Linked DNA regions of Homo sapiens: all the other regions are linked to region 4. Evidence: fine-mapped expression QTL. A gene starts in region 4. Each other region holds a variant in brackets. All regions are shown on one strand. Distances are between the middles of the regions. Region 1 overlaps EFCAB13 (EF-hand calcium binding domain 13). Region 2 has its middle 77 kb from the start of NPEPPS. Region 3 has its middle 22 kb from the start of NPEPPS. Region 4 holds the start of EFCAB13 (EF-hand calcium binding domain 13).

What was found.
Region 1: its variant is fine-mapped to the expression of EFCAB13 in whole blood (TOPMed, PIP 0.96).
Region 2: its variant is fine-mapped to the expression of EFCAB13 in whole blood (TOPMed, PIP 0.96).
Region 3: its variant is fine-mapped to the expression of EFCAB13 in whole blood (INTERVAL, PIP above 0.99).

Annotation. Positions count from the first base shown.
Region 1 is chr17:47,357,729-47,360,416 of GRCh38, reverse strand. The region is part of intron 9 of EFCAB13 (EF-hand calcium binding domain 13); the gene reads right to left. Among named protein-coding and RNA genes, the nearest start is that of EFCAB13, 35 kb to the right of the region's middle. The variant C/T (reference allele first, on the strand shown) is at 1,227.
Region 2 is chr17:47,452,967-47,455,654 of GRCh38, reverse strand. It overlaps the pseudogene MRPL45P2. Among named protein-coding and RNA genes, the nearest start is that of NPEPPS, 77 kb to the left of the region's middle. The variant A/C (reference allele first, on the strand shown) is at 1,137.
Region 3 is chr17:47,507,969-47,510,650 of GRCh38, reverse strand. No RefSeq gene overlaps it. Among named protein-coding and RNA genes, the nearest start is that of NPEPPS, 22 kb to the left of the region's middle. The variant ATTT/T (reference allele first, on the strand shown) is at 1,059.
Region 4 is chr17:47,322,933-47,325,620 of GRCh38, reverse strand. It overlaps EFCAB13 (EF-hand calcium binding domain 13), which reads right to left and starts at 1,666. Exons shown (of 25, transcript NM_152347.5): 1 at 1,547-1,666; 2 at 1,098-1,167. It overlaps EFCAB13-DT (EFCAB13 divergent transcript), which reads left to right and starts at 1,720. Exons shown (of 3, transcript NR_110880.1): 1 at 1,720-1,932. RefSeq lists enhancers at 878-1,057, 1,098-1,187 and a silencer at 1,528-1,937.

The sequences.
Region 1 (2,688 bases), 35 kb before region 4:
TTATGCAGCCAAAAGACACATGAAAAAATGCTCATAATCACTGGCCATCAGAGAAATGCAAATCAAAACCACAATGAGATACCATCTCACACCAGTTAGAATGGCGATCATTAAAAAGTCAGGAAACAACAGGTGCTGGAGAGGATGTGGAGAAATAGGAACACTTTTACACTGTTGGTGGGACTGTAAACTAGTTCAATCATTGTGGAAGTCAGTGTGGCAATTCCTCAGGGATCTAGAACTAGAAATACCATTTGACCCAGCCATCCCATTTCTGGGTATATACCCAAAGGACTATAAATCATGCTGCTATAAAGACACATGCACATGTTTGTTTATTGCGGCACTATTCACAATAGCAAAGACCTGGAACCAACCCAAATGTCCAACAATGATAGACTGGATTAAGAAAATGTGGCACATATACACCCTGGAATACTATGCAGCCATAAAAAATGATGAGTTCATGTCCTTTGTAGGGACATGGATGAAATTGGAAATCATCATTCTCAGTAAACTATCGCAAGGACAAAAAACCAAACACCGCATGTTCTCACTCATAGATGGGAATTGAACAATGAGAACACATGGACACAGGAAGGGGAACATCACACTCTGGGGACTGTTGTGGGGTGGGGGGAGGGGGGAGGGACAGCATTAGGAGATATACCTAATGCTAAATGACGAGTTAATGGGTGCAGCACACCAGCATGGCACATGTATACATATGTAACTAACCTGCACATTGTACACATGTACCCTAAAACTTAAAGTATAATAATAATAAAAAAAAAATTGAAAAAAAAATTAAACAGATTGAAAGCCGTGTCCAACTGCTAAATTTATATCCTCCCTGACCACTACACCCCTTAATTAGCCTTGACAAAAAAAAAAAAAAACACAATTCCCATTATCAATTTCAGACGGAAAATCATTTATAGTCAGACTAGATTTTCTTGAAATTCATCATATAATAAACTAATGATTACTAAGTTCTTTGATAAGCACAGTCAAGGAGGAAAAACTGGGCATTATTTGTTCATTCGATTAGTCTTTTTTTTAATTAATTAATTTTCTTTTTTAAAGACAGGGTATCTCTCTGTAGCCCAGGCTGGAATGCAATCACACGATCTCGGCTTACTGCAACCTCTGCCTCCCCAGCTCAAGCGATTCTCCCACCTCAGCCTGTTGAGTAGCTGGGACTACAGACACGTACCACTATGCCC[C/T]GCTAATTTCTTTGTATTTTTGTAGAGATGGATTTTTGCCATGTTGCCCAGGCTGGTCTCGAACTCCTGGGCTTAAGTGATCCACCCGCCTTGGCCTCCCAAAGTGCTGGGACTACAGGCATGAGCCACCATGCCTGGTCTCAACTAGTCATTATTGATCAAGTGAACAAAAATAGCAGAGGAAGGGACCTCCAGAAACCCTCTGCTCCATAAAAGCAATGAGAACTCTGGCAAAAATTATCAGAACCAACTTGTTTCAAAACTCTGAAAATAAGCCAAAGGCTTGCAGCTATCCGAGGAATTTCTTCAAGAAAAATGACTGAGTCTCAATAAGAACAGTGAGGTTTGTGGCATTTAAACTTGCCCTATTCCCATCTACCCATCTCCAGGTTCCCTGGAGCATTGAAAACCAGTACTCCACAATCATGATGAAAATGTATGTGTGTACTATTGAGGTGAGAAAGGCCTCTTTAAGCACAACTCAAAACTCAGAAGACATAAAGAAAAAATAATAAATTTTGTGATAAAATGTAACAGTCCCATTCCAAAAACCAAAGACACCAGTTCAAAATTAAAAGAGAAACAACAGACTAGAAGAAAACATTTGTAACATACATAACAAAGGATTAATAGCCAGAATATGAAAACTCCTACAAATCAATGAGATGAACAACCCAGTTTTTTAAATGAAAAGTATATGTGAAAAGGCAATTCATAGAAAAAATATATAAATGACCAGTAATTATATTAAAAGATTACTAATTTCATAATTGAGAAATATAATTAAACAAGATAGTTCCTGCAAAACAAGGTGGCAAAATTTCTTTTTCTCTTAAGAAAAAGATATTTGCATTTTTCCCTTTTATTTTTCTCTAGGGAGTCTCTTGATTTCTAACTGTATGCTTGATCTTTTTACTAGTTTCTATGAGACCTAGGTCCTTTGCTTCCACTCTGCCTAGTAATTGATAACTCATTTTGCCTTGACAAAACATAAATTATATGTATGTATGTGCATATAAAAAGAATTCTCAGGTCAGTATTAAACTGCAGCAATCTTGGGTTAAAGAAGGTCTTTCACATCTTTATACACATATATTGCTTGGATATTTTATTACAACAATATATTCAAGAATTATGTGTGTTCTTTTAAAAGGAACAAAAGAAACCTGAGAGTTCTTGATTAGTCTCAGAACACTGTCCACAAACAGAAAATAAGGTCAAAATAGGAAACCAGGACTTGAAAAATCAAGGAATATAGGGAAGTAAATAAGCTATTCTAAGTTGTGATTCAAAAAGTGGTCTCTACACGCTGCTCTGTCTGTCCGAGTGAAAGTTGCAAGTTAGTCCTGCCTCCTATCCATCATTTTTCCCTACTGTCTGGAACTCAACTTACATTTTTTTCTGACTATAGATTTATATGTGTGTTTGGACTCCTAAGTACTGACCACAGATACATACATAT
Region 2 (2,688 bases), 130 kb before region 4:
CTGCCTCCCGGGTTCAAGCAATTCTCCTGCCTTAGCCTCCTGAGTAGCTGGGATTACAGGTGCCCACTATCACGCCCGACTAATTTTTCTATTTTTTAGTAGAGACGGGGTTTTTTCTGTGTATTTTTGCTTATAGTATATACTTACGAAAAAGTTGAATCGTTTTGCTTATATTTTTTGTTTGCTTTTGAAAATTACACAGCATCTTTTGTGTGTCAATAAATTGTGTTTCTGCTGTATTTTTAATAGATACTTGGTCTGTAATACAGAATATCATGAGATTCAACAAACTGTAAATTTAATTAAGCAACCCTTTGTGGTTGAAGGGCCTAGTTTGGTGTCTGGCATTTAGTATACACTGCTAGCATCTGTGTAAAAGTGTGTGAACATTTTGGAAGCTTCAAGAAATACATTGTGTGAAATTGTCCTCTAGAACTTACACTGTATTAGCTGTATGTGAGATTGCTCATAACTCTATATTTTGTTAGGTACACTGTGTTACCCTTAAAAAAATCTTTGCTATTCTTTCTAGTAAAAAAAATATTAAAATGTTTGAATGAGTTTCTTTGAGTACTGGTAAGGTTGGTTATTTTAAAGTTTTTTTTTGAAGATTATTCATGTATGTTAATTGACCTTCCATATCTGTTTATTTTAATATTATAATTTTTTTTACAAAGTGTTTTATATTAGAGATCATATTCTTTTGTCTCGTATATTTGCTGTGTGTGTTTTTTCCCATAGTTTAACGTTTGGTGTTTAATTTTATTATGTCTTCATAGTTTTTGTTATTGGGATTCTAGCAGGTTAATTTTTTCTAATGCACAAGTTTACATTTTTGAGGTAATTTATGCAAATGCTCTTTATTGTTTCTGCCTTTGATGCCGTGCAAAGAAAATCTTTATATTAATGCACTTTTTTTTTAGTGCTTTGGAAGTTCATTTTTAAAAACCTTGTTTTTCTTTTTAATTTTAAAAGCGTTAAAACTTACAAACAGGTTGCAGGAATAGTACAAAAGAACTCTTCCTTCCCTAAACCATTTGAGAGTAACTTACCAATATAATATGCTGTCACCCCTGAATACTTCAGAATTTCCCATAAAGAAGAATATTCTCCTGGGAATATACAATATAACATCA[A/C]AATAAGGAAATTAACAGCGATGCATTATTCCTGTCTGATCTTTGGAACCCATTCGTGTTTTTGTAGACATATTCTTTATAGCAAAAGGATCATAAACTGCATTTTGACTCTTTGGTCTTTTTATTTATTTTTCTTTTTATTTTTGTACAGAGTCTCGCTCTGTCACCCAGGCTGGAGTGCATTGGCGCAATCTTGGCTCACTGTAGCCTCCACCTCCTGGGTTCAAGTGATTCCCGTGCCTCAGCCTCCCCAGTAGCTGGGATTACAGGTGTGCACCACCACGTCCAGCTGATTTTTTTGTGCTTTTAGTAAAGACAGGCTCTTGCCATGTTGGCCCGGGTGGTCTCGAACTCCTGGCCTCAAGTGATCTGCCTGCCTCAGCCTCCCAAACTGTTGGCATTACAGGTCTATGCCACCACACCCAGTCCTCTTTTGTCTTTTTAAATCTCAAATAGTAACTCAGTCTTTCCCTGAGTTTCATAACTTTGATACTTCTGAATATTACAGGTCAGTTATTTTGTAGAATGACCTCCTATTTGGATTTGCCTGATGTTTCGTCATGATTAAAAGCAGTTATGTTTTTAGCAGGAGTATCACATACGTGATTCTGTGTTTTTTGTTTGCATCCTATCAGGTGGTACATGATTTCAGTTTTTCCTTGACCACTTGGTTAAGGTGTGTCTTTTAGGTTTCTCCACTGTGAGGTTAATCTTTTTTCTCTTTATAGTCAGTATGGATTTTGTGGGGGAAGTACTTCGCCTATAAACATCTTGTTCCTTGCGCCTTTTCCTCACTAATTTTAGCATTCATTGATGTTTCTTGGCCTAATTTATGACCAGGATTGATGGCAAGTAGTGATTTTCTAATTTCACCTTTTCTTTCACATTCATCAGTTGACGTTCCGCTGTAAGGTGAAGCTTTCTTTACTCCCTGATTATTTGTATTAGTATGGACTTATGCTATTTTATTTTAATGGGTCATATTCCACTAATGTCATTTATTTTGATTTACATACTGTCTCAGGTTTTCCTGGTGGGACCTCTTTAAGCCGGCTTCTGTGTCTTTTGACCTATCATTTCAGAGAAGCATTTCTCTACTTCTGACACAACAGTATAATCTAGGCTCATCTTATATTATTCCTGCTGTAGTTCTGAAATCACCATTTCTCTGAGGAGCCTTGATTCCTTTTAGGTGAGAATAATATTTAGAAGCCAAAGTGGGTGCTAGGTGTGGGTTATTGCTACTCTCAGTCAGCATGGCTAGGAAATTGTGTGTGTGTGTGTGTGTGTGTGTGTGTGTGTGTGTATTCCTACAGAGATACATGTTTCTATAAATTCACATCTTATATTGTTTTTATATCTAAGTAGAAAACTGTGGGCCAGGCACGATGGCTCACACCTGTAATCCTAGCACTTTGGGAGGCCGAGGCCAGTGGGATGACTTGAGGTCCGGAGTTCAAAACCAGCCTGGCTAATGAAACCCCATCTCTAATAAAAATACAAAAATTAGCCGGGCATGGTGGGGCACGCCTGTAATCCCAGCTGCTTGGGA
Region 3 (2,682 bases), 190 kb before region 4:
GCTGAGGCAGGAGGTTTCCTTGAGGCCAGGAGTTCCAGACCAGCCTGGGCAACATGGTGAGACCCTGTATCCACAAAAAATTTTGACAAAATTAACTGGTCATGGTGGCATGGGTCTGTAGTCCCAGCTACTCAGGGGGTTGAAGTGGGAGGATTCCCTGGGCCCAGGTGGTCAAGGCTGCAGTGAGCCATGATCGCACCACTGCACGTCAGCCTGGATGACAAAGTAAGACTTTGTTGGCTGGGCGCGGTGGCTCACACCTGTAATGCCAGTACTTTGGGAGGCCAAGGAGGGCGGATCACGAGGTCAGGAGATCGAGACCATCCTGGCTAACACGGTGGAACCCCATCTCTACTAAAAATACAAAAAATTAGCCAGGCGTGGTGGCAGGAGCCTGTAGTCCCAGCTTCTGAAGAGGCTGAGGCTGGAGAATGGCGTGAACCTGGGAGGCGGAGCTTGCAGTGAGCTGGGACGGCGCCACTGCACTCCAGCCTGGGCGACAGAGCGAGACTCCGTCTCAACAACAACAACAACAACAACAACAACAACAACAACAACAAACAAACAAAAGGCTTTGTCTCAAAAATAAAATAAAATACACTAAAAATAATTTAATTTAAAAATAAGGATAAAACCATGTTAGTGCTCAATATTATTACCGAGGAGAATGGCTCTTGAATAGCAGCAAGTTTACTATGTTGAGGTTTGTATTTATTTTCTTTTATTTTTTTTTTGAGACAGAGTCTCGCTCTGTCGCCCAGGCTGGAGTGCAGTGGTGGGGTCTCGGCTCACTGCAAACTCCGCCTCCCAGATTCAACTGATTCTCCTGCCTCAGCCTCCAAGTAGCTGGGATTACAGGCACACACCACCACACCCAGCTAATTTTTTTGTATTTTTAGTAGAGATGGGGTTTCACCATGTTGACCAGGATGGTCTCTATCTCTTAACCTTGTGATCCACCCACCTCAGTGTCCCAAAGTGCTGAAATTACAGACATGAGCCACCGTGCCTGGCTCTTTTATTTTATTATTATTATTATTATTATTATTATTATTATT[ATTT/T]TGAGACAGAGTCTTGCTCTGTTGCCAGGCTGGAGCACAGTGGCACGATCTCGGCTCACTGCAACCTCTGCCTCCTGGGTTCAAGCAATTCTCCCGCCTCAGCCTCCCAAGTAGCTGGGATTACAGGCTCCTCCCCCTACCATGCCCAGCTAATTTTTTATTTTTAGTAGAGATGGGGTTTCACCACGTTGGCCGGGCTGGTCTCGAACTCCTGACCTAAGGTGATCCACCCACCTTGGCCTCCCAAAGTGCTGGGATTACAGGCGTGAGTCACTGCGCCCAGCCCCTTATTTTATTTTTTGAGATGGAGTCTTGCTCTATCACCCAGGCTGGAGAGCAGTAGCGTGATCTTGGCTCACTGCAACCTCTGCCCCTCGGGTTCAAGCAATTCTCCTGCCTCTGCCTCCTGAGTAGCTAGGATTACAGGCACACACCACCATGCCCAGCTACTTTTTTTGTATTTTTAGTAGAGATGGGGTTTCACCATGTTGGCCAGGATGGTCTCTACCTATTGACCTTGGGATCAGCCCACCTTGGTGTCCCAAAGTGCTGAAATTACAGACGTGAGCCACCGTGCCCAGCTCTTTTTTTTTTTTTTTTTTTTCCGAGATGGACTGTTGCTCTGTCGCCCAGGCTGAAGTGCAGTGGTGTGATCTTGGCTCACTGCAACCTCACCTCTGGGGTTGAAGCGATTCTCCTGCCTCAGCCTTCCCGAGTAGCTGGGATTACAGGCACCTGCCACCATGCCTAGCTAATTTTTGTATTTTTTTCAGTGGAGACAGGGTTTTGCCATGTTGGCCAGGCTGGTCTTGAACTCCTGACTTCAGGTGATCCACCCACCTCGGCCTTCCAAAGTGCTGGGATTACAAGCGTGAGCCACCACACCTGGCCTAATTTTTGTGTTTTTAGTAGAGATGGGGTTTCCCCCATGTTGGCCAGGCTGGTCTTGAACTCCGGACCTCAGGTGATACACCTGCCTCGGCCTCTCAAAGTAGTGGGATTACAGATGTAAACCACTGTACCTGGCTGAGGTTTGTATTTCTTTTTCTTTTCTTTTCTTTTTTTTTTTTTTTGAGACAGAGTCTTGCTCTGTCGCCCAGGCTGGAATGCAGTGGCACGATCTCAGCTCACTGCAACCTCCACCTCCTGGGTTCAAGCGATTCTCCTGCCTCAGCCTCCTAAGTAGCTGGGATTACAGGCGGGCGCCACCACACCCAGCTGCTTTTTGTATTTTTAGTAGAGACCAGGTTTCACCATGTTGGTCAGGCGGGTCTCAAACTCCCAACCTCAGGTGATCTGCCCACCTCGGCCTCCCAAAGTGCTGGGATTACAGATGTGAGTTACTGCGCCCGGCGCAGTTGATTTAAAAAAAAAAAAAAAACTAAATGGGCTGGGCATGGTGGCTCACGCCTGTAATCCCAGCACTTTGGGAGGCCGAGGTGGGCACACTTGAGGTCGGGAGTTCGAGACCAGCCTGACCAACATGGAGAAACCCCATCTCTACTAAAAAAAAAAAAAAAATTAATTGCACAGGTAGGAGTAGGACTGGTGTGACAGTATCTTGTGTGAAAAAGGTTCAGGTCTCACGAAACCCAATGCAGTCAGAGTTTCATGAAAAGAC
Region 4 (2,688 bases):
AGCCCCGAGGCAAGAAGAATGTTCAAGGAATAGTGGGAAGGCCCCAGGAGGCTGAAGCAGGAGAGATCAGAGAGGCTAAGTGAAAGTGGCATATCATGGAGGACCCCTAGATGACAGTAAGAACTGTGGCTTGTACTCTGAAGGAGTGACAAGCATTGAAAGAGTTCTGAGGAGAAGGATTACATAATCTGAAGTTCTTTCTGAAAGGATCACTCTGGTTACTGTGAGGAGGGAAATCAGGTAGGTCTGGGTTCCTGAATGCCAAGTGAAGAAAGTACTTCAAGAGTGAGCAATCAGGCTGTGCATGGTGGCTTATGCAGGTAATCCCAACACTTTGATGCGGGGGTGGGGGTCTAAGCAGGAGGGCTGCTTAAGGCCAGGAGTTCAAGACCAGCCTGGGCAACAGTGAAACTCCCACCTCTACAGAATTTTTTTTTTAATCAGCTGGACATGGCGACCTTAGTCCCAGCTACTCCAAAGACTGAGCCAGGAGGATCTTTTGAGCCCAGGAGTTTGAAGCTGCAGTGGGCTATGATTGCACCACTGCACTCCAGCCTGGACGACAGAGACCTTGTCTCAAAAAAAAAAAAGGGGGGTGGGGTGGGCGGTTAAGATCAGTACTGAATGGTTCGCTAGGTTTCACAACACGGAGGACACTGACAAACTTGAAAGGAGCCATCTGGGTGGGGTGGTAAGGAGACAATGTCGTCAGAGTGAGTACAAGAGAGAACGGGGTAAAGAAATTGAACCCAGCCAGTAGGGTAGGCTCTTTCAAGGAGTTACGTTGTTAAGAGAAATAAGGCAGTAGCTGAGAGGAAAATGGGGCTGTGAGGCTTTAAGATGAGAAAAACAAAGGCGTCTTCACTGAAGCATGACTCTGTATGACATCCTTTCACAAAATACCTTCCTCTTTCCTCTCATGCCACATTTCCCTCACAAGCCGCCCGACTCGCTCGCTTTTCTCTCGCCAGAGGGACTGAAAACGTCATTAATACCAACTGCATACACAACTCCATTGCAGCTACTGCCATTCATGAACGTTCAAACTTTCGTCACCCTGTTTTCATATTTGTGTAACAAACGTCGAGTGAACGAACCTCCACCTCTTCCAAGAACCCACGCTGAGGAGGCTTCCCATAGACCCTGCTCTTACGAAGCCAACGACTTCTACAGGAAGAAAGAGGACCTGTAAGCTAGCGAGTGAACGACCCGCAAGATGGAAATGAGTGTGCTAATAGAGGTCTCCGCCTCCCGCTGAAGGAGCAGGGAAGTGACACCACCCCCGGGACCGCCAGCCTTCTACAACAACCACCATTTCTGAGGAACCACCTGATCAGTCTCAGTCACCCTTCAATCTGCCCCTTTGTCCCACTCAGTCCCCTCACTGTTCCTTTCTGGAACCTTCCTTCACCCAGCCCCACCACTGTTCTCCTTCCTCCCTCGCACCCTACTGCATTCTCCACCCTCCACCTCGAAGGCTCCCCTCCCAACTCCTCAGCGGGTCTCGCCTCCCCTCCCCACCTCTGTCCCCCAAGGGTCCCACTACCGGCCCGAGCTGCCCTCCCTTCCTCTCGGCTGGAGGCCCCCGCGCTCTCTGTGGTCAGCCCCTGCCGCCCCTCGGGCGGCGCTGCTCTAGCTCTGCAGCCTTCCCAGGATCCCGCGCCGCGCGGCCCCGCCCCCGCGGTCACCTGACCGAGCCCGACGCTCCGCCCACCGACCACCCCGAGCGGAGCGGGCCCAGGACCCTATCGGCTGTCGAGCCGGTGCTGCCGCGGCCACCGCCACCGCCCAGGGGCTCCGGGGCTGTGGGGAGCGGCTGAACTCAATACCGCCTCCGCGCTGACTGGAAGGCACTGCGGCCGCGCCTGCCTGCCCCACCTCGTAAGGGCCTGTGACCTCACGAGGCCAGCCGCCGGGCGCTGCATTCGAGCGGTGGGGCTCCTGTCCGTGCGCTTTCCTCCCGCAGCCCCGGCCGGGATTCCGCCCTCCGTCCTTGCCACCCGCTCGCCACTCTTCCCTAATCGCTGTTCATTCTCCGGTGCGCTGTCCCGCCATGGTCTGACCCCACTTCAATCTTACCTTCGGTCCGTCCTTTGAACACCCCGACCCCCGACCCCTTTCTTCCAAAACATTCCATCCTTCTTGGCTTCTGCTACTCAATAATGGACAGCAGCTCGAAGGCCATGTGTCCCACGGCTTTGCTGAAATTTGTCTCGGGTTGCCTTTAAGGAGACTGTCGTTTCCTTTTGAAAGAGATACTTTGGTTGGTTTGGTTTTCTTCTGTGTGTTTGTTTTTCCTATGTATTTATCGTATGCAGTTGGGCAAAATACTTAACGCTCCCTGAGTCTCGATTTTCTCATTCTTCCAGGGTTGTGGGAATTCAAAAATATATACGTAGTGCTCAATAAATGTTACAATATTTAATCCCTTCCGTGATACTACTGTGTTCATTTACATCTTAAACCTTGCTTTGTAGGCATTCTTTAATATTTTATTTAGATTTTTATTATTATTAAATATATGTACAAATCATAATTGTAAATATTTAATGGGGTACAATGTTATATTTTAATATATGTATACAATATGGAACGACTAAGTCAAGCTTAACATATCCATCACCTTGTTTAACGTTTTTTATGGTGAGACATTTGAAATTTACTCTTAGCAGTTTTGAGATATACGAT